3 separate regions of the Homo sapiens genome follow, and regions 2 and 3 are each linked to region 1. The links come from fine-mapping of genetic effects on gene expression. A gene starts in region 1. Each other region holds a variant in brackets. All regions are shown on one strand. Distances are from middle to middle.

Evidence for each region. PIP is the estimated chance that this variant, and not a neighbour inherited with it, causes the effect.
Region 2: its variant is fine-mapped to the expression of RGS3 in whole blood (INTERVAL, PIP above 0.99).
Region 3: its variant is fine-mapped to the expression of RGS3 in whole blood (INTERVAL, PIP above 0.99).

What each region holds. Positions count from the first base shown.
Region 1 is chr9:113,459,690-113,467,870 of GRCh38, reverse strand. It overlaps RGS3 (regulator of G protein signaling 3), which reads right to left and starts at 4,144. Exons shown (of 23, transcript NM_001394167.1): 1 at 3,990-4,144. The coding sequence starts at 4,068. RefSeq lists enhancers at 3,332-4,286, 4,287-5,241.
Region 2 is chr9:113,575,625-113,583,805 of GRCh38, reverse strand. RGS3 (regulator of G protein signaling 3) reads right to left here. Exons shown (of 23, transcript NM_001394167.1): 18 at 1-356. Among named protein-coding and RNA genes, the nearest start is that of RGS3, 120 kb to the right of the region's middle. RefSeq lists enhancers at 1,329-1,837, 1,735-1,904, 2,065-2,114, 4,596-4,685. The variant G/C (reference allele first, on the strand shown) is at 4,725.
Region 3 is chr9:113,678,620-113,686,800 of GRCh38, reverse strand. LOC105376223 (a long non-coding RNA gene) reads right to left here. Exons shown (of 3, transcript XR_930254.3): 3 at 584-4,895. Among named protein-coding and RNA genes, the nearest start is that of ZNF618, 190 kb to the left of the region's middle. The variant T/AT (reference allele first, on the strand shown) is at 3,661.

The DNA.
Region 1 (8,181 bases):
TGGTGGTGCACATCTGTAGTACCAGCTACTCAGGAGGCTGAAGTGGGAGGATCGCTTAAGCACAGGAGGTTGAGGCTGCATGGTCAAAGAGGAGCCATGATCATGCCACTGAACTCCAGCCTGGGCAACAAAACAAGACCCCATCCCCAAAAAAAGTTTGGGATTCAATGAACACTATCAAGAAAGTGAAAAAAACCCACAGATAGAGAGAAAATATTTGCAAATCATATATCGGTTAAGGAGCTTGCATCTAGAATATATAAAGAAATCTTACAACTCAATAATAACAAGACAAAAAGCCCAATTTTAAAATGAACAAAAGATCTGAATACATTCTTCTCCAAAGAAGATATATAAATAATGAGCACATGAAAAAATGTTCAACATCACGGGTCATCAGGAAAATGCAAATCGAAACTATAGTGAATATCAATTCACACCCACTAGGATAGCTAGAATTAAAAAGTCAGATAATAACAAGTGTTGGTAAGGAATGTGGAAAAACCAAAACCCATATACACAGCTGATGGGAACATAAAATGATACACCTACTTTGGAAAAGAGTTTGGTAGTTCCCTAAATAGTTAAACACAGAGTTACCATAGGACTCAGCAAATCTACTCCTAGGTATATACTGTGTGTATATGAAGAGAAATGAAAACATTTGTCCACACAAAAACTTGTTCACAAATGTTCATGGCAGTATTATTCATAATAGTCAAAAGGGAGAAACAGCCAAAATATTCATCACCAGATGAATAAATTTTTAAAATGTGGTATAGCCATACAATGAATACTACTCAGCCATAAAAATGAATGGAGTATGATATCTGCTACAACATGGATTAAACTTGAAAACATTATGCTAAGTGAAAGAAGTCAGTCATAAAAAAAAAAATACGATTCCATTTATATGAAATGTCCAGAACAGGCAAATCTACAGAGGGAGAGAATAGATTAGCAATTGCTTTGGGCTCGGGACAAGGGAGGACGGTACAAGCTAAAGAGCATAATGTCTCTTTTTGAGGGAATGAAAATGTTCTGAAATTGTGATAATAGTTACACATCTCTGTGAATATACTAAAAACCATTGAATTGTATGGTTTAAATGAGTGAATTGTATATATCTGAATTATATTTCAATAAAGCTGTTACAAGAAAAATCAGCAAATATCCTAATCAAAATAAAATATACAATCCTGGAGAAAAATATTATGTATACCTACAATGACTTCAAATTACATCATTTTTCACAATAAAGAAAAAAAAATCCCTCTAGAGTAGTTGGGTCCTAGCCTCAGCTTGCCTACTCCCTTCCCCTGAAGTAAGGCCACCTCCTCAGAACGCAGTGTCCTTCAATTAATGTCACTTGAACATACTCCTTTTGGGGGACAAGGGGTTGTGTTCATGTGTACACACAAATACATATATCATGCAGTACTCTCCCCGAAGGGAATTCTCATCAAAACAGTTTTGTCTCTTTATATTTCCATAGATGATTATGCTCCCTTTACATGTCTGTGCTCAGGAAACTACCAGCTAAGCAACATCTTCATCTGGTTCTACCAAGGCAAAGCTCACAGTAGAAGGCCAGGGGCTACCTACTTTGCTAAGGAAAGGCCAGTGAACTGAGAAAAACTTAGCCAAAACCTTCACAGTAAAAGTGGTCCCAATTGCTACCAAAACTGACTCTGAATCCATAGCTTCCAAACCTGGATGACAGTCTGAACGCTCTATGGCTTCTTAAGTGTTCATATTCTCAGGCTCCACCCCAGACCTATTAAACTAGAGTCTCCAGAAGAAGATTCTAGGAATCTGTGTATTTTTAACAGGCTCCCCACATGCTTCTGATATTTGGCTGGGTTTGGAAACCACTGATAGGAATCTTTGCTCATAAGCAGATCAGTGAAGATCACAGTGGATAAAGAAAATCAGCAGCCTGAAAGAGGGGCACCACGACAAATGGCACCCAGGGAAACAGAGCCAGTGCAGGAAACAGGAGAGAATTTCTCAAATGCTCTCATAAGCATCCTTAGAGAGATGTGAGAGGAGCCTGCACGAATAAGAGCAGGTGGCTTCCCACCCCACCCAGGCTCCTGTCTGCCTCCTGCACACTCAGGTCACAGTCACTTGTTCAAGCAGCAGCCTTCCCTGATACCCATCAGACTCAGCCCTGAGGCCATGGCTGGGCAGGAAGATCCACTCCCTGCTGGGCCTGAACCCTCCTCAGCTTCCCAGATCTGGCAGGCAGATTAATCTAATAGAAGAACATGGACCAATGCAAGGAAATATTCACATCAGGCCACTAAGGAAAACATATGGGTTACAAAATTGTCCATACAAACTTGATCTCAATTGTGTTGAAATTTGACCCCTAAATACACACAGGCACACACACACACACACACACACACACACACACACACACACAGAAATAGGTGTGGAAATAAGCCTGGGAGGATATAAATCAGAAAGTTAACAGTGGTCTCCCTGGGAAGTCAGATTACAAGTGATTTTCACTTTCTTCTTTTCACTAAGTTTTCAGCAGTAAACACATGTAACCATGATAATAAGGAGGAAAAAAGCAAACATATTTTTACTTTTTAATCAGGACACAGCTAAGGTAAGAGGGCCTCACAGCTCCCTGACACCCTTTCCTGATCACTCCTACCCCAGCCAATACAGATCATCCTGGAAACCACCCTTGTCTCACAGAGCCCTGCATCCCAATGGGGTTAGCAGGAATTGCCTCCTACGCTGGGGCATTAAGTGAGATAATGCAGGTAAAACACTTGGCATAAGGAATGGCAATGGTAAGTTCTCAACAAATGATGGCTAGTTAATTGCCCTTTATCGTCCACCAACTAGACCAGTGAATTCCTGCTGCCAGACGTCAGGCAATTTCAGAGGCCAAGCCACTGCTCTTCCATCATTCCCTCTACCCCTAAGGAAAAAAAGCAGGTTGTGGAAAACCAAATATGTTGAGCAGGAGTAAGCCTGAAAACAGAAGAGCCAGGAACCCCAGGGAGGGACCAAACTCCTTGGGCACTCTGTCTTTGAAAGCTGGGCAATGTCCAGTAATGTTTCAGTAACAGCCCCAACCTTTAGAAGGAAATTGTATGCAAGTTCAAACAAAAATGCGCTGGACAGGTCATCTCTGGAAAGCTTGAGCTCAGCTACGAACTCTGCCACTGGCTCATGGAAGATCTCTTGGTTTCAAGTCTTCACAGAGGAAAAATAACCCCTCTCCACAGAGAGTTGCAGGACCAGTGAGGAAATGAAGGGTTACCCTCAAGGGTAGGGTTGTTACCTTTACTATGGCTACCAGGAAGGCCAGGTTTGCCCAGACCTTTGGGCAGCTGCCGCCCAGCTGTTATTTGGGGGAACTCAGTCTGCTACTTAGGGGCTTGGGAGTGAAGCCTACTGTTCACTTCTTTCCACCTCAAACCCTGAGGCAGCCCTGGGACCCTCCTAAGGGATTGTTCTTTCTTGGAGGAGAGAATTCTCCCATCTCCACTGTGGCTCAGATACCCAACAAAGTCAAATTGCAGCCTCCCCACAAGGCAGCAGGGCCAAAGGGCCCAGCACCTGTCCGCTCCCTGAGCCAAAGGAAAGTGGGTGAATGAGATCTCCAGTTGCTATAACAAGACCTTGATTTAACCTGAGCTGCTTGCTAATGAGAAACTCCGTGGTGACAACCCAGGTCTCTGAAAGATTAACCAGAGCGTGATTATTCCAGCCAAGTGAGGCAGAACCAACCGCAGTTGGCACTCATGGCCGGGCAGCAGGTGGTGTCCAGCAGCTTGCTTGGACTGAGCCTGTGCCCTGAGCCCCTCCTGGGCAGTCACAGGAGAAAGGGGCCAGAGAAGGTGCCCCTAGATAGAAAGAGCACCTGCTCCCAGCCTCCCCTGTCACCACGAGGGGCTGCGTTTCTGGGCGCTGGGAGCAGGGTGAAGCAGCCCCTGCCGCCAGCCCCAGCGGGCACTTACCAAAGGTGGTGAGGTAGAAGGACAAGTCCGGGTGGGCACGCCGGCTCCCGAGGGAGACGCGGTGCAGGGAGCGCTCCATGGCGTCCCACTGCGACCCGGACAGGAGCGTCTGCAACCCGAGGCGGCTGTGTTGCTCCCCAGTAACCGGAGTCTCCAGGGCGGGAGGAGCGCGAGCGGGAGGTAGGGCTGCCCCAAGCGTTGGAACGGCCAGGGCGCGCCCGGCCCTGATTGGCCCGCGCGGGTTTGAATGGGGAGAGTTCCACCTGCCGGAGCAGAGCTGGGCCGGGGTGGGGGAGGCGGCGCCGCCGACCCGCGCTGAGCAGCGACGGCAGCCACCCAAGGAGCCAGCAGGACGGTGCGGCCACCCCGGGTATCCCGGCCCCAGCACCGCGCTCCCGGTTGGAAATGCCAGTCCCACGAGAAGGCCCAGTCCGGGGTGCCCACTCTGGGCAGGCTTGGCCTCCTCGTCCAGCTCTCCTAGACCAGCAATTAGTCGGGTTTATAACCTGCTTTGAAGCTCAGGCCTATAATCATTAGATCCAAGCAAAGGCAAAGGAGCACCCGATGGCCCAGGGCAGTGAGGTTTGGAAAAGTGTTCTCTGCGCTTGGACAGGTCGCCCCCCACCATGCTGCATCCTCTTCCCAAACCCTGCATCCTGGATCACTCTCTTGAGCCTCCTCTTGAACAAGTGCTGCCTGACACAGGTCCGGATGGGAGCAGCTTGCTCCAACCAACCTGATGGCCCCCCGTCCCACAGCCTGATGCCATCGGACAGCAGGACAGGCCCACAGCCTCTGAGAAAGAGGAACGCACAGGAAACGGAGTGGGGTGGGTGAATCCCCCAGCCTGGTGCGGGGAGGCAGAGCTGGAAGGTCAAACCCTGCTTTGCTGCTTTGTCAGCAAACATTTACAGGACACCTCCTCGTAGCAGTTTCACACCAAGACATCTGCTCTGCAAATCTCTGTTGCCACTGTGGGAAGGAAAGCTGTTAGTCTCGTGTAAATCTAAAAATGGGAAGTGTTGGTATTTGTCCCTGTTCCCCAGACTTCATCGCCAAGTGGATATTTGTGGTTCAGTGATCCACTCAAAAACAAGATGGGGAGATGCAAGACAGAAAGTGGAGAGAAGAGTTATGTGTTGAGTACCAGATGCCAGAGGCTGAGCTGAGCTGGGCAATTTACACACATCATCTCAGTTAATCTTCACGGTAAGTCTAATAAGTATTAGCCCCAATTTACCAGGAAGAAATCTGAACCTCAGGCAGAGAAGACAGGTGACATGCCCAAGGTTTGCAGAGCTAGGAATAGGCAGAGCTGAAATTTGAACCCAGGCCTGTCTGCCCCAAACGCCATTGTCCTATTCTTCCTTGGCCTCCACATCTGCCCCATGGCCAACAGCAGGTGGAAGGAGCAAACGCCACAGGGTCAGGTGGCCACCAGCGAGGAGCAGAAACTGCAGAAGGAGCCCTGAATCAGCAAACTGGTGATAAATCACATAAATGCCGTAGGATTGTTTGAATCCTGGCACTTCGTGAAGTCCTGCCCTGCTCTTTACTGCACCCCCCCACCCCACCCCACTCTCCCCCTCCAACCCCGGTTACACACACACATGGTGAACACTGCCTTTAACAAGAGCAGGTCCACTCTCCTAGCCTCAAGCCAGTGACAGATGGACTTACCTGCACCCTGGACTTTGGCATGCGTGATCCTCTTCCTGGCTGGAGAAGTTTGAGTCCACTCATCTCTTCTGGGCAGAGCGATATCAGGGCTTAGCCACTCCATCCAGCCAGGGAATATGGGCAAGCTCAGGCTCAAGCCACAGGATGTAGAGAGGACACTGAGCACAGAGACGTGGCAGACCTGCAGGAGCAAGATGGGAGCATGAGTTAGCCATGGCCTGAAGATGCTCCATGCAAGGTGTGTTCACTCCCAGTAGGAACTAGAAAGCATGGTGTTCAGGAAACAGCAAAGGAAGGCCCACAGGGAAAAGGGAAGGTGATGTGCCTGAGATGATAGTCACCTCTTCACAACTTCGCCAGGGACCACTGTAGAGCCTCCTCCCAAAGGGGAGACTATCTTGGGCTCCAGAGGCTGTGAGCAACCTGCAGGTACAACACTCAGGACGGTGAGATCCAGAAAGAAAATTGGGCAAAGGTGTGCTGTCTGAATGTGACCTAGGAGAGAAAAGACCGAGGCCCACACTGGGCACTTACACCCGGTAATGGGAACAAAGATTCTACTGCTTTGTAGGTCCCCTCCTGACTCCTGCCCCACTCTGCAGCTAACATATTCAGTTGGAAGATTGCAAGGCCAGCCTGATCCTGAGCTGGCCCCTCTGATGGTATCACCTTCACCACCACCAGTAAGGCTCCTTTACTCAGTAGCGTGCTGGAAGCTTCCTTTTCCTAAAAGGACAGGTCGGTCACCCTTTCCTCAAGAGATGGAGGAGAGAGGTGAGTGGGAGCTTGGGCAGGGCACTTCAGGAGAGACTGGCCCTATTAACCCACACTGCTGTCCAAAAGCAACATCCAGAAAGGCTCATGATCATGGCCCTGCTTTCCCCAAGAAGGCAGGAGAGTTGGACCAAGCCTGGCTTTCTCACATGTCCTGAGCATTCTAGCACCCCCTGGGGTTCTTCCACCTCACACATGTGCACACACACTCCACACATACATTATCATACCACACACGATAACAATCATACACTCTGCACACATACATACACATACCTCAACATATCCCATGTACACACACAGTCACATCATATGCACATATACACATACATAAACACACTACATACACACCTCACATACATATACAAACACACCCCACACATTATATATGCATCCTATGCATATATATAAGCACACATCACACTGACACATGCACACAAAACACATACACTACATATATACCATATGCATATATACAGATTGATTTGAAGCACTTAATAAAGTATCGAGCAATGATTTTAGGCATTTTTTTAAAGACTGACTATATCTGGAATAATAAGGAATACTTGAGTTTGAAAAGAAGGGACTAAATGGATTTATTTGGGTGCATTTTCACAATAACTCTCAAAGAATCTTAGTGACTTTAAGATATCATCTAGCCCAATAATAACCAAGAAAACTTAGAAAAATAATAACAAAGGGAACTTGTACTACCAGATGTTAAATGGTGTTAAATAATATAAAACTAAAAAGAAAAGACAGATCGATGGAATTAGAGTAGAAAGTTCAAGGGGATAATTTATTTAGAAAATAACAAAGATTTAAAGTGTTTTAACTAAAAATTCATTTCAAAAAGTTAGAAGAGGAATAAGCTAATTCAGAAGAAAAAAAAATTTTTTTTTTTTTGGAGACGGAGTCTCACTCTGTCACTCAGGCTGGAGTGCAGTGGCGCAATCTCGGCTCACTGAAAGCTCCACCTCCTGGGTTCACGCCATTCTCCTGCCTCAGCACCCCCCGAGTAGCTGGGACTACAGGCACCCGCCAACACGCCCGGCTAATTTTTTGTATTTTTAGTAGAGACGGGGTTTTACCTGTTAGCCAGGATGGTCTCGATCTCCTGACCTTGCGATCTGCCCATCTCAACCTCCCAAAGTGCTGGGATTACAGGCATGAGCCACTGCGCCTGGCCAGGAGAAAATTTTAAAAGGAAATAAGGTTAAAGGTGAAATTTATCCTCAAAAAAATAAACTTCAACAATAAGACCAAAGCCTTGTCTCTGAAAAGTTCAGTAAAATAGACCTCTGGCAAAATGTATACAGAAAACCAGAAATAAGCAAGTTTAGGGAAGAGAAAGCCAAGATATACAGGTGATTTTTTTTTTTTTTTTTGAGAGAGTTTCTCTCTTGTTGCCCAGGCTGGAGTGCAGTGGTGCGATCTCTGCTCACTGCAACCTCCGCCTCCCAAGGTTCAAGCAATTCTCCTGCCTCAGCCTTCCGAGTAGCTGAGATTACAGGTGTACACTACCATGCCCGGCTAATTTTTTGTATTTTTAGTAGAAAGGTGGTTTCACCATGTTAGCCAGGCTGGTCTCAAACTCCTGACCTCAGGTGATCTGCCCACCTCAGCCTCCCAAAGTGCTGGGACTACAGGTGTGAGCCACTGAGCCCGGCCTCTTTTTTTTTATTTTTTTTGAAACAGAATCTCGCTCTGTCACCCAGGCTGCAGTGCAATGGCACAA
Region 2 (8,181 bases), 120 kb before region 1:
TTGGTGAGTAGAGGGTCCTGGTGAGGCAGGGGTTCTTGACCAGCAGGTAGGTCCTGGCAGGGTGAGAGGTCTTGGGCTGGAGGGGGTTCCTGGCATGGTGGCACATCCTTGCTGGGCGGAGCATCTGGGCCTGGAGGGGATCCTTCAGAGGTAGCTGAGTCTTTGCTGGACAGTGGTTCTTGGCTGGGAGCGGGTTCCTGCCCAGAAGGGGAGTCCTTGTTGGGTGGAAGGTCTTGTCCTGGAGGAAGCTCCTGGCCAGGAGAGGGCTCCTTGCTGGGTGGGGAATCCTCGGCACCAGGCCCCTTCCCTTCCTCCAAGGCCATCTCCCTCTTCTCATCTGCCTCCGTCTCAAACATCTGGGAAACAAAAAGAAAACAAGAACAGTTCAGAAGAGGAGGCTCCAAGATGCCAGACACCATGCATGAGCTGACATGAAATCAGGCAGTGGCCTGAACCCCGGGCCCCCAGTCTGAAAGCTGAGGTGCCAGATGGAACCCCCAAAGCCCCTTTGACTTAGCTGGGTAACAATTCTCACCCTGTCTTCTTGCTTGAACTTTCTGCTCCATCAAAAACACAGCTGGTCATTTATAGGAGAAGAGGGAGAGATAACCACTATCTATCTAGCTCCTGCTTTGGCAGGTGCCAGGCCAGCTTGACCCCACTCTCTTATGTGGCCTTCCCGACAACCCTATAAAAGAAGCATCACTGTCCCCATTTTACAGAAAAGGAAACAGGGTCAAAGTTGCCTCTGGGGATAAAGGAGAACCAGGCAGTCTCTGCTTATGGACCAGAACCAAGCCAGGGCAGTCACTGAACCCAGCCCAGGGTGTCTTCTACCTGAACTCAAGTTTAAAAAATCCTAATGAGTCATTCAAACAAGAATGTGCTCTGAACGCTTAAGTATCTTTTTGAAACTATTAAACTGGAATGAAACCGGAACTTTAAAATATTGTCCACACCTGGACTCACCAGATGTCGCAGACACACGGAACCTCCCTGAAGAATCACCCACCCAGGGATTTTTAAACTGCTTGGAGGAAGCTCAGGGATTCCTCAAAAAACACAGCATCTCCTGCCTCACACACAACCCTCGGGATCCTAGGGGGTTTTGCTGAGTTTCGACAGTAGATTTCATGTGCAAAGAGAAAAACATTTCTCTTAATGAAAGTCTGAATAGCAGCTATGTCACCAGAAGATTGGGGCCCCGAGAAAGTCAGGAGTGTCCATGGTGCCACAACCACACAGGGAGGCAGTTCTCAAGTCTGGGGTGGGCCCCTCCCAGTCAAGGACCAGGAATGCCGGAGCTGGAACTATTTATTTAGAGCCCAGGTTCTGTCTTCAAGAAGCCATAGCTGCTGAGAACTAATGAAAGGGAAAGACCTCACCCATACTCGGGAACTGAACAGATGCTTGGGAATGTGTGCACCTGCGGGCACACGCGCACACTGGCAGAAAACTTCAGGGGTAAGTACCCCCAGAACATGGGTTAAGAGCTCTCATTGTAGAAATCATTAATGTCCATTTGATGGATGAGAAAACTGAGCCCAAAGGCCGGTGACTTACCCACTATTGTACAGCTGCCCTGACAGCCAAAAGCCATGCTCGAAGCTGAGAAGTCTTTGAAGCCCTGGGGAGTCTGTAATGGTGAAGCCCCACAGCTGGGAGTCAGTGTTCAGCCATGGCTTGGGGCAGCTGCAGGCTGCTGCACACACGTGTCAGGGGTCACGCTGGCATCTGGGAGCACAGATGTGAGCGGATGTGAAAGCTCGGCACGGGTAAGAGCCACAGCCTGGGAGTGTGAAAGTGAAAGTGGAGCCCTGCAGAGCAGAGAAGGTGGCTGGGCAAGGGAGGGGAGGCCTTGGAGGACTCTAGCGTGATCTGGCCAAGGTCGGGAAGGGCACGCCTTAGGCTATGGCTCACAGGCCAAAGACAGGTGCCTGCTGATGCTGTGGCCTTCTTGCCCTGGAAATCCTGCCTGCAGCTCAGAGGTGACTCCACACAAGGGCCCTCTCAGACCTCATAGCCTCAGACTCTGAAACAACAGCGATCCGAAATCCCCACTGCATAGACAGAAAGGCTGAGGCCCAGAGAGGAGCAAGGGGCAACCTAGAATCACACAGAGGTGTCAGGTAGAGCCAGTCACCAACCTTTAGGCCTCAAGGTGTCCACGTATGAAATGGGATAACCAGCATGCCTGAGTAACAGATCAGGAGCGTATGCTGGAAAAGCTGGAAAGCTCGAAAGCTCCTACAGAAGATGGTGGTGTTGGAGTTAGTGCTTTAAAAAGCATTGATCTAGAGGGAAATTCTGAAGTTAAGGACCTCAACCAGAGGCACGTGTTTCCCACATACACCAAATTTTGCCAAACACCAGAGTCAGTGTTGGCAATTGTAATGTCAGGGCCTCCAGTCCAGAATTCTCATCTGGAAACTAAGGGCTGTGCTTCAGTCCTATCAGGCTGTTCCCAGGTGGACAGAAAGACCCTCCATTGGGTAGACAGGAAGGCTGAGGGCCCAGTCTAGACAGTGACTTAGTGACTTGCCCAAAGCCACCCTGCACAAATTAGGGGCTAGGCTGGGGCCAGAGTCCAGGCCTTCTGGCCCTGTTCTTCTCAAGCCCACTTCTGATCTCTGTCCCCATGAACAAACCAGTCCCCAGCCCATCGCCCCACCCACCAGGGAGCATTCTCCATCAGGAGAAACAAACTGCCCTGCAGCCAGCTCCCTGGGGCCCCTCAGTCCTATCACCCTACCACATGGCCAGACCTCCCCCCGACCCACCCCCTGGCCCAGCCACCTGCCTCTGATAGTCCTTGGGGAAAGACGGAAGGAAGCAGCAACCGGGTGCCCTCAGGGCCTGGCACGGAGTGGCACAGAGTGGCACTGAGTGGGGAGCGGGCCGCATTTCCCCTTTCCTGGGTGGTGAGGGTGGGGCCCAGGCCTGTCCCAGTGGTGACTGTCAGTCAGAGCCCGCCCACCCCTTGGGGAAAGTGCAGCAACAAACCCAAAACCAGAAATGCAAGTCAGCCTGCCTCTGCCAACCCTGTTCTAAATCGAGGCCAAACCAAACAAAGCCAGGAGGGGAAGTGCCACTCAGGCAGGGGTACTGCCCCCAGAGGGCACCTACCCAGAGAGATCAGCCGAGAAACTAACCAAGATGGAAGGGTTCTCAGAGGGCCCAGTGGTTATGTGCTCAGATACCCGAGCCAGGCTGATTTTGATCCCAATGGGGCCACTTTTTAGCTGTGCAACTCTGGCCAAGCCTCTCAACACCTCAGAGCCTCCGTTTCCTCATCTGGAATTGAGCCCAGTGATATCATACTGGACTCACAGGACTATTTGAGTCTCCTCACAGTGCCTGGCCCTGGAAAAGCTTTTGATACAATGGGAGCTATCAGTGGTCTTATTTTAGAGATAAGAAACCTGGGGTCCCAGAGGGTAAAGGAATTACCTAAGAATGAGAGGCTGATGCAGGATTAGAACTCATATCTCCTGCCCAGGGTCTCTCCCTGTTTCCTTGGAGCCTTACACACAAGTGTTTGGGGACCTCAGAGGGCTGTAGAAGGAGGAGGAACAGCCTGGAGTGCTGCCTGAGGCCCCGCACCTGGGTGCATCCCACATCAGCAGATGCTGGCGAACAGGGCCCAGAGCTCATGGTTCTTTCTGTGCTCCCAGGCAGGTCTGTATGAACAGGGACTGCGTGCAGGTTTGGTAAGGCCCCTGTTCTTGGGAGAGCTGGGGTGGGAAGTGGTTTGACGGGAGCTCCGGAGCAATTATAGGAAACCCGAGAAACCCAGGGGTGGGAGGGTGGCAAGTGTAGGAGAAAATTAGGGCAGGAGGGGAGGCAAAGATGAGGGGGAGGTTGCAGAACACATGGTGGGCATGGGATTTGCCCTGTGAGCAACGAAATGCCACAGGCAGAGCTGTGCTGTGTCAAAGCTGCTCTGGGGAATGTGGGCAGGATGTGTGGATGGCAGGGAGGACTGGGGCACGCATACATTCATGCATTCTCCAAGCACTGAGGTAGGTACTAGGAGGACGGCAGGGAACAAGTCAGACACAATCTCTGCCCTCAGTTAAGTAGAAAAAACAGAGGTTAGACAACTAGTTTGAAGGAGCATGGGGACTGCTCTGATAGAGGAAGTACAGGCAGCTGGGGACCCAGTGAGACAGCTGTTGCAACAGCTGAAGTAACAAGAATCCAGCCAGGGCGCCCCAGGAAGACCAGCTTGCTCACCCAGGGCCTTGGGTCTAGAGTGCTGGAAGCCACTGCCCCACCCTCCCAAGGTGGGGGTCTGTGTCTTTCCCATCCATCACTTCTTTGGCTTGGCTGGACCAGGTTAATTCTGCCCATGTCTCATCTGCTGTAAGCACACAGGAAATGAACCAGGCCCTCTAAATGGAGTCACTGTTTAGGACCTAATCAAATCCTCTCCCAAATCCAATCCAGAGCTCAGAATAGGCTAAGGAGGGATGGCAGCTATGACACCCAGAGTTCACACTCATACCAGCTTTGGCTCCTGGGCCCCAGATGCCCACCGGATGTTGGGTTGAGGGTAGTGGTGGGCTGCTGAAAGTGACTTGTCCAACATCACACAGCTACTCACTGAGCAGCCAGGTTTGCTGACCCAGGGACAACCTGCAGCTCTCACTCCGATGATTCATCACAGCCACCACGGATGCCGGGCTCTGCATCTGCCCTCGAAAACCACTTCCTGCACTGGG[G/C]GGGTGTAAACTGGGGTTTGCCTCTGTCTCAGGGTGGCCCTTAACAGCCAGGATTTTACTGACAGAGCACTGGACATGCAGCCAGAAGACCTGGACTGGAATCTTCACTCCATCATTTGCTAGCTGTGTGATCCCAAGCTACCCCACTCCAAGCTTGGTTTTCTCTGCCATGAAAGTGGGTGAGGATGCCTGCTGCTTCCTGTGCCAGAGACCTAAGGGGACCAAGTGAGAAAGGGCAGGAAGGCACTCTGTGAACTGTAAAGTCCTTTGAGAAAGGGAGAGGCTGTTAGAATTCCTGCCCTGCCTTGGACCCCCAGGCTTTCAAGATGGGCTGTTCCTTCAAGCTTGGCATGCTCTGGATCCCTAGCCTCAGGTCCCTGACTCAATGCTAGCTTCCAGGAACCTTGATGGCTCAGCTAACACTTAGCTCTCCTGGCTCAGCGTCAGCCCAGCTCCTCCAGGTCTGGCCTCTTGACCACCCAGAGGCTGACACCCCCAGTCCTTCCTCCGCCACCAGCTCAGAGACCCTCCAGGCCATACTCCTCTCCCCTCTACCTCCACTGTCTCCAACACAGCAGGTTTGGCAAAATTCAGGAGGATGGAGGCGGTACTTACATTAGGGGGAGCTCCAGATACTAACTTCACACTTACTTGCTGGGTGACCTTTGGCTTAACCTTTCTGTGCCTCAGTTTCCTTAGCCATAACATAGGATTTCTAGAATCTCCTCACAATGTTGTTAGAGGAATAAATGAGCTAATGAGTATCCAGAGCTCAGCACCATGAGGGCACCCATGAGCACTCAATAAACGATAGCCATGGTCACTCCAGCACAGCGTGGCCTTAACATCTCCCTCCCTGAATTTCACCCCTTCTCCACCCTCTCATGGGCCTGTCTGCCTGTCCATCAGGACCTGCTGCAGGGCCCCTCTCATCACAGTCCTGTCCACTCCCTTGGGAACCCACCCACTCCCCAGGCCACAATCGCTATCTGCACCATCTGGCCACTGATGACTCGCAGTCCACTCTGCCAGCCCTGACCGCTTTCCTGAGTTGAGATGCCACAGGCAAGTATTCAACAAATCCTCATGGAATAGTTCTGCATCCAGACACTGTTCTAGGCTCTGTGCATAAAGGAAGGAATAAGAAAGACATGATCCTTGTCCTTGTGGAGCCTACGAACTAGAGAGGAAGGAGGGATATTGACCAAGTCATCACTGCCATAAACACAGGATAAACAGAAACCAAGATCTGCAGTGTGAAGGAAAACCCTCGGGTGCTGTGAGAGAGTCCAGGGGAGTGTTGGGAAGGCCGCCCTGTGGAATGGCTGGAGACCGAAATCTGCTCAAGGGGCAGGGCGGGGCTCACTAGGGGAGGAAGCAGCATAGGCCAAAGCCCCGGGCCAGGAAGAGCCTTAGCATGCTGCTGACACAGAGGACAGCTGTGTGGCTGCATCCCAGGGACATGGATGGAGACCTCCTTCTGCATATCCCATCAGTACCCCCAACTCTACAAGCCCTACACTGAATGTGTGATCTCCCCGCAAGTCCATCATTCCTCCTCTAATGGTCCCTGTATCAATGAAGCCACCACCAGTTGCCCAAACCAGGGAATTGGCCATCATTTTCTCCTTTTCCTTCGTGACCACCCCCATGGTCAATCCTCAAATCCTGATCATCACTTATACAACTTCAAGGATCTTTTTACTAGGGAGGTTGGCAATAAGTAGGACAAAGTATATTGGAACTCTCTGTACTTTGCACTAATTTCTAAAGCTAATTTCTAAAAAATAAAAGTTGAGGCCAGGCACGGTGGCTCAAGCCTGTAATCCCAGCACTTTGGGAGGTCAAGACGGGTGGATCACCTCAGGTCAGGAGTTCGAGACCAGCCTGGCCAATATGGTAAAACCCTGTCTCTACTAAAAATACGAGAATTAGCCAGGCAACATGGCGCGCACCTGTAATCCCAGCTACTTGGGAGTCTGAGGCAGGAGAATTGCTTGAATCCAGGAAGCGGAGGTTGCAGTGAGCCGAGATTGCACCACTGCACTCCAGCCTGGGCAATAGAGTGAGACTCTGTCTCAAAAGTAAAAAATCAAAAAATTAAAAAGTTGATTAATCTTTTTTAAAAAGAATGTTTCTACTCTCTCCATGTCCACTGCTGCCACTTCCCTCTAGACCACTGTCATCCCCCACCAGGATGATGTGGGGCTCACAGTGGCGGTGCAGACCCCACTGGCCATTCTCTGTGCTATGTCAGGGGAGCTGCCTCCATGCAAACCTCAACTTGTCACTCCTCTGCTTAAAACGTTGCTGTGGCTGGCTCCCCAATACCTCTCAGATAAAGTCCAAATTCTGTAGCCCTGGAAGACCCTGGGCTCTGTCTCCCTGTAGCCTCACGTCTGACCACTCCCCACCTGAAGTGTTTGAATGAATAAATGAATGAAAGAACAATCGCTGGGTGCGGTGGCTCACGCCTGTAATCCCAGCACTTTGGGAGGCCAAGAAGGGCAGATCACAAGGTCAGGAGATCGAGACCATACTGGCCAACATGGTGAAACCCCGTCTCTACCAAAAATACAAAAATTAGCTGGACGTGGTGGTGGGCGCCTGTAATCCTAGCTACTCGGGAGGCTGAGGCAGGAGAATGGCTTGAACCCCAGAGGCGGAGGTTGCAGTGAGCCAAGATCACGTCACTGCACTCCAGCCTGGTGACAGAGCAAGACTCTGTCTCAAAAAAAAAAAAAGAAAGAACAATCCAGTGAACTTCACAGGACCATCTAGACTCTTAGCCTCAAAGTGCAGCCCAAGAGCCAGCAGCAGCATCACCCAGGAGCTTATATAAAATACACACTCATTTTTTTGTTTTTGTTTTTGTTTTTTTTGAGATGGAGTCTCGCTCTGTCGCCCAGGCTGGAGTGCAGTGGCGTGATCTCAGCTCATTGCAAGCTCCGCCTCCCGGGTTCACGCCATTCTCCTGCCTCAGCCCCCCAAGTAGCTGGGACTACAGGCACCTGCCACCACGCCCGGCTAATTTTTTGTATTTTTAGTAGAGACGGGGTTTCACCATGTTAGCCAGGATGGTCTCGATCTCCTGACCTCATAAAATACACATTCGTAAACCTCAATTCACACCCACTGGATCGGAACCTGCACTTTAATAGGATCCCAGGAGATTCATTTGCACATTAAAGTTTGAAAAACACCGACCTAGACTATTGGTTCTTAACGGAGAAGTACACTTTAGAATCACCTGAGGAGTATCTTAAAAATGCCTGTCTGGACCCAATCTAAGACCTACTGCATCACAGTCCCTAGGAGTAAGGCCCAGGCCTTTTTACTTCTTTCTGACTGACGAGACAATTCTGGAGAGTGGCGTCAGGTAACAGGCAAGGTGACTGTCTGTTACGTGAGGCCCAGAGAAGGGAAGTGATAAGGCCAAGGTCATACAACAGAATCA
Region 3 (8,181 bases), 220 kb before region 1:
ACAGGGTCTGCGCTGGGCCCCCCTTCCCTCAGAGCCTGTGCCTCCCCAGCCCACTGGGAGACCTGGCTTCCAGCCTCAGCCCTGCAAGACAAGTCACTGTGCCGCAGGATGCTTCATTCCCTCCTCTATATATGGGAACAGCCACAACAACCACCCCCCACTGCTTCAGGGGAGTCCAGGGCCCCAGAAGAGCCTGCAGGATCTAGCTCCTGTCTCCCTCAGTGCACTCGCCCTGTCCCTCATATCCATTGCTCCTGCCACATCCCTTCTCTGCAGGTCCCCTAATTTCCATGCTGTCTCCTGACTGCAGGTATCGAACCTGCTCATATCCTCCACCTGGAATGCCCTCCAACGCAATTGCAAATTGAAGAAAAGATGTTCAAGGACCCCTCCTAGCTGGGGGCAGAGTGGGGGCTTGTCCAAGTCTGGTCAAACCAGGTCCCAGAATTCTGTGCAACAGGAGTGCTCCATGGAGTCAGGGTGGCCTTTTTTCTCCTGGACACCCCAGTTCCAGGCCCATATGGCTGGAACTTTGGGTTCCTTTGCAAGGATGAGGACAGAAAAGAGGAAAGAGACAGGAAAATAAATAATCCATGTTTAATCTAGAATGAGAAAACACAAAAAGAACAAAAGGAAGAGAAAAATATCACCCTCCACCCTCAGCGCCCAGAGAGAAAGAGGTTGTGGTTTGGAGCCTCCCAGAGTGTTTTATGCATATATATGTGTATGGTGGGTGTATTAGTCTGTTTTCAAGCTGCTAATAAAGACATACCCGAGACCGGGTAATTTATAAAGGAAAGAGGTTCAATGGACTCACAGTTTGGCCTGGCTGGGGAGGCCTCAGGAAACTTACAATCATGGCAGAAGGGGAAGCAAACACATCCTTCTTCACCCGGCAGCAGGAAGGAAGAAAATTGAGTGCCCAGTGAAAGAGGAAGCTCCTTATGAAACCATCAGATCTCATGAGAACTAACTTATTATCACGAGAACAGGATGGGGGAAACAGCCTCCATGATTCAATCATCTCCACCTGGTCCCTCCCACAACATGTGGGGATTATGGAAACTACAAGATGAGATTTGGGTGGGGACACAGCCAAACCATATCAGTGGGTGTGACCTTCACTCCAGAAACTCTAGATACAAGAAATATCGCCGCATGACTATTTTTCTAGAATCAAAACAAAAGCTGACTCCAGCCCGTCCCACCTGGAGCCAGGCACCTATGGGATCTGCAGACCCAGACTCCCTCCTTAGTCTTGAGGAATCTCTCTCTGTCCTCACTCTCGTTTGTTGCTCAAAATGTCAATCAAATTTTGAGTTCCTAATCTTTTCTCCAAAATCCTGAGTCTTCCTTTCCTCAATAAATGGTTTCTCCAACTGCTCAGTTGCTCAAGCAAGAAATAGAGGACTCACCCTCCACTCCTCCCTCTCTTTTCTCCTTGTCCTCCTGACAGCCAAACCATCACCAAATCCTGTGTGTGAAACCCAAAGCCTATCTGCAGGCTGTCCCCTTCTCTCTATTGCAATAGTCATCTCCAATCCAGTCTCTGCCCAGCAAGCAGAGGGATCTGAGATGCAGGAAATCAATGCTGGTCCTCCTGTTCCACCGCTGTGAGATGCTTCTACTGCTGAGGAGGTATCTGAGCCTTCTGTGCCCACGTGGAACAGCCCCAGCCTCCTTTGCAGGTCACAACGCTCACTGCCTCTACTAGAGCCTCCCTTCAAACACCAGTGCTGCTGGTCATGGGGCACATGCCTGTAATAGCTTGAGACCAGGAGTTCAGGAACAGCCTTGGCAACATAGCAAGAACCGCCCTCTCTGAAAAATAATTTTTTTAAGAAAAAAAAAATAGCCAGGCACAGTGGTACATGCCTGTAGTCCCGGCTACTCAAGAGGGTGAAGTGGGAGGGTTGCTTGAACCCAGGAGTTTGAGGTAACAGTGAGCCCTGATGGCACCACTGCACTCCAGCCTGGGTGACAGAGTGGGACCCTGTCTCTAGAAAAAAATATAAAAATAAAAATAAAAATAAAAAAACACTGCTGCCTCCTCTGGTCATCACAATACCTCCATGAACACCCTTTCCCTTTCCCCCACCAATTGTTCAGATCTCAGGGGAGCTGGGGAGCTCTCACTTCCTCAGGGAAACCTCCCTGCCCACCACCCCAACCCTAGCAGCTTTGAGACCCTGGACCTTCCATCCTCCTTCCCCCCGGTTTGCCGCTTCATTCCTGCCGTGTCTGGCACTCTGCATGTGGTGTCTGAGGGCAGGGACCACAGTGGCTGTCGCTCACTGATCTATCCCCAGTGCTTCGCACAGGGCCTGGCATGTAGCAGGCCTTCAGTCTTTGCTAAATAAGTGAATAAATGAATGAATGCATTTCCAGATGACTGCGACTCACAGCTATAGCACTGTCACACCTTGACCAAGTGTCCCTTCATTCCTATTTCCCACCTCCACATTCAATCCATCAGTGAATCCCATGGACATTAACTCCAAAATATGCACCAAATTCATCCTTTCTGCTTCTACCATGCCCACTCCAACTGGTCTCCTGGCTTCTTCTCTTGTCCTCCCCCATACAGATTATTCACACAGATATAAAGGGCAGCCCCAGTCCCTTTTGAAATAGACAAAATCAGAGTCTACCATGACCCTGCCTCATCCCTTCCAGTGGGCTTCCCACTGCATTCCATCCAGCTGCTTTCTGGTGCCTTCCAGAGCCCTCCAAGGTCTTTTTCCACCCCTTCCCTGACCTGTCTCCCACCTGCACTAACCATACATTCTGCTTCAGTCACACTGGCCTTTGGAGCTTCTCAAAACATGATAAACCCATTCCTACCCCAGGGCCTTGGCACTTCCCCTTCCTCCTGCCAAAGACTCCGCCTTCATGCCCAGCAGGGGCTGTGCTCCCTGGCTCACTGAGGGACACCTGCAGTTCAGCAGGCTGGTGCATAGTAGATGCTCCATCCAGATTTGCCGAATAAGTGAAAGGACCTCTGCATGCCTCTGCATCTTGTACATCTGTTTGGAGCCGAAGTATAGACCCAGATGTGTTATTTTCCCTTGTTAATTACTGCAGAGTAATTATAGTAAGAAGTGTAAGTACAGCAAGCATTAATGGGGAAAAGAACAGATTTCATGCACTAGCTCGCAGAACATTTGAACCAGAGATGGGCCTCCCCGCAGCCTGCTAGAATTCTGGAGGGGGTAATTTGGCCCCCTGAGTCACAGCCTGAGCCCAGCCCACCCCAGTTTTTCACGGCTTCTCGGAAAACCACCTCCAAGCTGGTATCTGCCTCAATAGAAGCCGTGGTGGGGCTGGGGGAGCCTGGGCCTTTCTGGGGTTAAAAATCTTGATTCTGGCTGGGCATGGTGGCTCACGCCTGTAATCCCAGCACTTTGGGAGGCCGAGGTGGGCGGAACACGAGGTCAGGAGTTTGAGACCAGCCTGGCCAACATGGTGAAACCCCATCTCTACTAAAAATAAAAAAATTAGCTGGGCGTGGTGGTGGGCGCCTGTAATCCCAGCTACTCAGGAGGCTGAGGCAGGAGAATCGCTTGAACCCAGGAGGTGGAGGTTGCAGCGAGCTGAGATCGCCCCATTGCACTCCAGCCTGGGCAACAAGAGCAAAACTCAGTCTCAAAAAAAAAAAAA[T/AT]CTTGATTCTATGTGTTTCTGAAAAGCTGGGTGGCATCAGGCAGATGGCTGAACGTCTCTGAGCCTCTGTCTTCCTATCTGTAAAATGAGGATAATTGATATCTCCCTCCTAGGTTGTTGTGGGCCCTAAAAGTGACAACATATGCTAAGTGCCCATTGTGGGTTTCAGCCAAGTTGCCCCCCTTCCCTCCCTTCCCAGTGTGGTAGAGAAAAGACACGGTCCCTGCCTGCCCACTGCAGGCCCTCCTGTGACTCTTCCCAGAAGAAATGGGGCAAGGCTGTCTGTTCATTGATGTGCTTCCTCTATTTTGAAAAACCAGGTTGATTTCAACAAGATTGATGAAAAATGTCTTCAAGATGATTGCTTCAGGCCCAGTGTTTCAAAAAGGAGTTGCTATTGGCAAAGAGGGAGTGCCACATCTTGATGAGGGGGACTGTACAGCTTGTGCGGGGCTGTTTGCCTCTCTGCCCTCCCCAGCCACACCCACATACGGACAAACACTAAATGCCAGTTGCATCCCACTAGGCAGAGAGAACCACAAACGCCCCAGGGCTGGAAACCACCGGGAGAACTGGCCTTGGGAGGTGCAAATGACGTCGGGGAGGAGAGTCTAATGTAAACTGTAAAGTGCTGGAGAGCCAGGGTCATTGCTGATATTCCAGAACCTACTCATTGGTCATTTCCAGCTGCTGGGAAGCGGATCTTGGACTTGAGTTTTGCCTTCCGGATGACCCTGAGACGCCCTCTTGTGGGCATCAGTGGTAGTGAGTGGCAGGTTTTCCAAGTTGCTCTCTCATTTGCAAGTGGAGCCTTGCTTTTCTTTTGGTCTTTTCTTTTCCTTTCTTTCCTTTATGTTTCTTTCCTCTTCCAGTGCTCTTTTATTCAGTGCCACAATTCTTATGAAGATTATATCTCCAAATACCACTTTTCTGTTCTCCAAAGTGTTAGAAGATGAAGATCCAATCTCATATGGATCCTACCTTTAAAAAAATTAATGTATTTTTGCTTTTTGAAGATCATTGTACAAAATTTTGAAAATGCCAAAAAGCACAAGCAAGCCAGTAAAACTCGAGAGTAAGCTTTCTAACTCAACCTAGCAGGCAGCAGGAGAAAGGAATGAGGGTACAGTCTTCCTGGTTCACCAAGTGTTGATATGAGCATTTCCGCAAAACATGTTGGCGATACGAGCTCAATTCTGAGCTCGTGAAGGAGGGTGGACATCTGGGCCTAGGAACTGAATGAGACAAAGCCGTTAGTCACATAACTGAGGATTCCATCTGAGCCTGTCTCCCCACACCCCTCTTTTTCTTCCCACAGAGACCATCCCGTGCAGTTAGTGCAGGGGATGGCATGAGCTCTGGAGTGTTCCATTCATTCATCTGTTCATTCATGGATTCATTCAACAATGCTCAATGATCATCTCTTGTGGGCCAGACCTTGTGCTGGCACCTGGAGATACAAAGCCTAAAATACAGTCCCTGCTACTCAGAACTCATGGTCTAGACTGGACACAGCTAGATAAACAGGAGATTACCAAGCATGCTCTGATGAGGGATGCTCTTACGGGGGTACTATGGGGTACTGGAGGCTAATCCTGGATCCACCACTCCTCAGGTATGTGGACAAGCCACATCCTCACTCTGATCTTCAGTTTCCCCATCTGTAAAAGGGGGATAACAGGACCGGCCTCATCACATTGTGGCGGCGATTGAATGAACATGAAGTACATGCATGAAACGTGTAGCACACAGAGCAGGTACTTGCTAAATACTCCTCTCCATCCATGCTAAATTCTTTCTTCAGACTCTGGAGATCAAATCTGACCAGGATCACCTATGACAGTCAGGTTGCCTGTTGGACTTTTGGGAACATCACAAAATTTTGTATGTAGTCAATGCCAGAAAGGGTGGCCTGGAAATTATCCAGCCAAGTCTCCTTATTTTAGAGAAGAGGAAACAGGGCCCAGAGAGGAGAGGAGTTTGGCCCAAGGTCACACAGAAGATCTGGAGAGCCTCTAGGCTTGGTCATTAAGGTTCCAATCTCTGCAGGGAGAAGGGAGATTCCCTGAACTTGAATCCAAGGCTCCTCAACTTACTGGGTTGGGCAAGTTAGTTCAACTCTCCATGTCTCGGTACCTCCATCTGTAAAATGGGCATAAGAACAACTTCCTTCCTAGAGTGTGTGGGAGGATTACATCAACCAACTCCCAATTCAGTGCTCCATCTACCATACCTAGAATTCATGCAGCTCAGAATTTAGGATAGCAATTCTTCATTCTGAGTCTGTACATTTTGCATCCAGAATCCACGGGTCAGGACTTGGCTCAAGTTCTTCCCTAAGTGTAAAGGCCTCTTGGTGGAAACCTTGGGCAAGAGGAAACATGTTTCTATTCCAAGCAGCAGAGAAGTAAATTATGATCAAAGAGAGTTAAGATCAAAGCAGTGCCACCCACCTCTCCCTCAGATTAACCTTGCTTTACATCAATTCAATGAACATGGCTGGGTCACATTTTAAGAAAATAGGCTGCTTCCTGGTCACTAATAGTCAATTGCCTCTCTTGGCATGCCCAAGATGAATTATAATGGTTTAAGGTCAAACACAAAATACGAACAATTGCATCAAAACATCAGATTAAATAAAAATAAAAATAAGCAAACATCAGAATAAGTTAGCATCTGGGTGAACTCTTGGTAATGGTGGCCACCCCTCAGCCTTTCCTCTTTTCCTTCAAAAATAACTATATGCTCAGAAGCCTTTCAGGGGTCACCCAAATAGAAAAGCAGTCCCTCGAGATTGGTTGCAAACTCCAGTTTATCCATTTCTCTTTCAATATCACAATGGAAAATCACCAAGGCCACATGGAGGTCTGTAATGATTTTCTGTACACTCGTGTAAACAAAAGAACATACAATTTCCCTTCTTTCCCCAGTGGAGTGTTTTATTTTTTATTTTTCCAGTTTAGGGGAAATGTTAAGATGATTTGGGGGTTGCTGAAATGTCTAAAAATCAAAGATACAATAGTAAAGAAAGAAGCCAGTTGAAGGGGCTGTGTTTGTGGTGAAGTCAGTTGTTTTATTTCATTATAAGGTTTCTATGTTTTCAGGAAGCAAGAACAAAAGGGAAAGGAGAAGTGGAAAATTCCAGAAAATGATGGATGTGAGGCTGTCATAGAGATCGAGAGCACCCATTTCAGGCTGATAGGGCAGTCCATATGCCCAAATGATCGACTTATAGACTATTTTCTTTTTCTTTCTTTTTTTTTTTTTTCTTTGGAGACGGAGTCTCGTTCTGTTGCCCAGGCTGGAGTGCAGTGGCACGATCTTGGCTCACTGCAAGCTCCACCTCCCTGGTTCACGCCATTCTTTCCTGCCTCAGCCTCCCGAGTAGCTGGGACTACAGGCACCACCACCACGCCTGGCTAATTTTTTTTTTTTTTTTTTTTGTATTTTTAGTAGAATCGGGGTTTCACTGTGTTAGCCAGGATGGTCTCAATCTCCTGACCTTGTGATCCACCCACCTCGGCCTCCCAAAGTGCTAGGATTACAGGCGTGATCCACTGCGCCCGGCCAGACTATTTTAAAGAATAGCAGTTGCTCACAACTTGACTGTCCTGTGCTGTGGGGCAGGCCATGAGTGGCAGTAGAAAGAACGCGGCTCTCAACACAGACCAAGGAGGTCTCAGTCTGACCCTGGCCAGGGTCCTTTGCCAGGTGAGTGGCTCTGGGTAAGTGGCTTCACCTCCCTGAGCCTCGGTTTTCTTATCAGCAAAATGTGATGTTTGAAAAGCACCTAGAATAGAACCTGTGGCTTTACTGCGAACACCATCCCTCATCATTTGACTGCTGTCAACATTCTGTCACAAACGGTATTTTATTTGATAGCCCCCCAAACCTTCTGAGGTTCTTGGAACTGGAATCTTTGTTCTTACTTGACTGATCAAGAGCTTCTAGTCCCCTAAAGACAATTCACTCCTTAGTGAAGAACTTGGGTATTGGGGGAGGGGACAGTGAGACCTGGATTTCAAGTCCTAGCTCCACCAAGTGATGTCACCAACTGATGACATCGTGTAGGTGATTTCACCTCCTTTATCCTCCAGTCTCCTGCTCTGTGCTTTAACACCTCTCCCGCTGGCCTGGCCACTGCATGAGCAACACACCTGGAGATTGCAAGCTCTTTGCAGATTCCAGACACCAAACATAGTCCCCATACTGTGAACTGAGGAATGAACTGAGGGACATGAGAGCACTCAAGGATGTCCACAGAGGAAAAGAACCCCCTTCATACGTCTAATCAAGAAAGCAGACAACTTCCCCAAGCACCAAGATGTCAGCTGGACTTTTGTAAACTAGCTTTTTCCCTCACAGTCTCACTTTGCTTCCCATGTTCCAGTTTGCCTCCTTTCCCAAGGTATGGGCCCGGCTGTTCATGTCAGCAGGGATGGGCATGGGGAGAGGTCACAGAACATGGTTTATGTGGTCAAAGGTGTGGTGTCTCAGCAGGATGCCAGCCCAGGTGGCCCA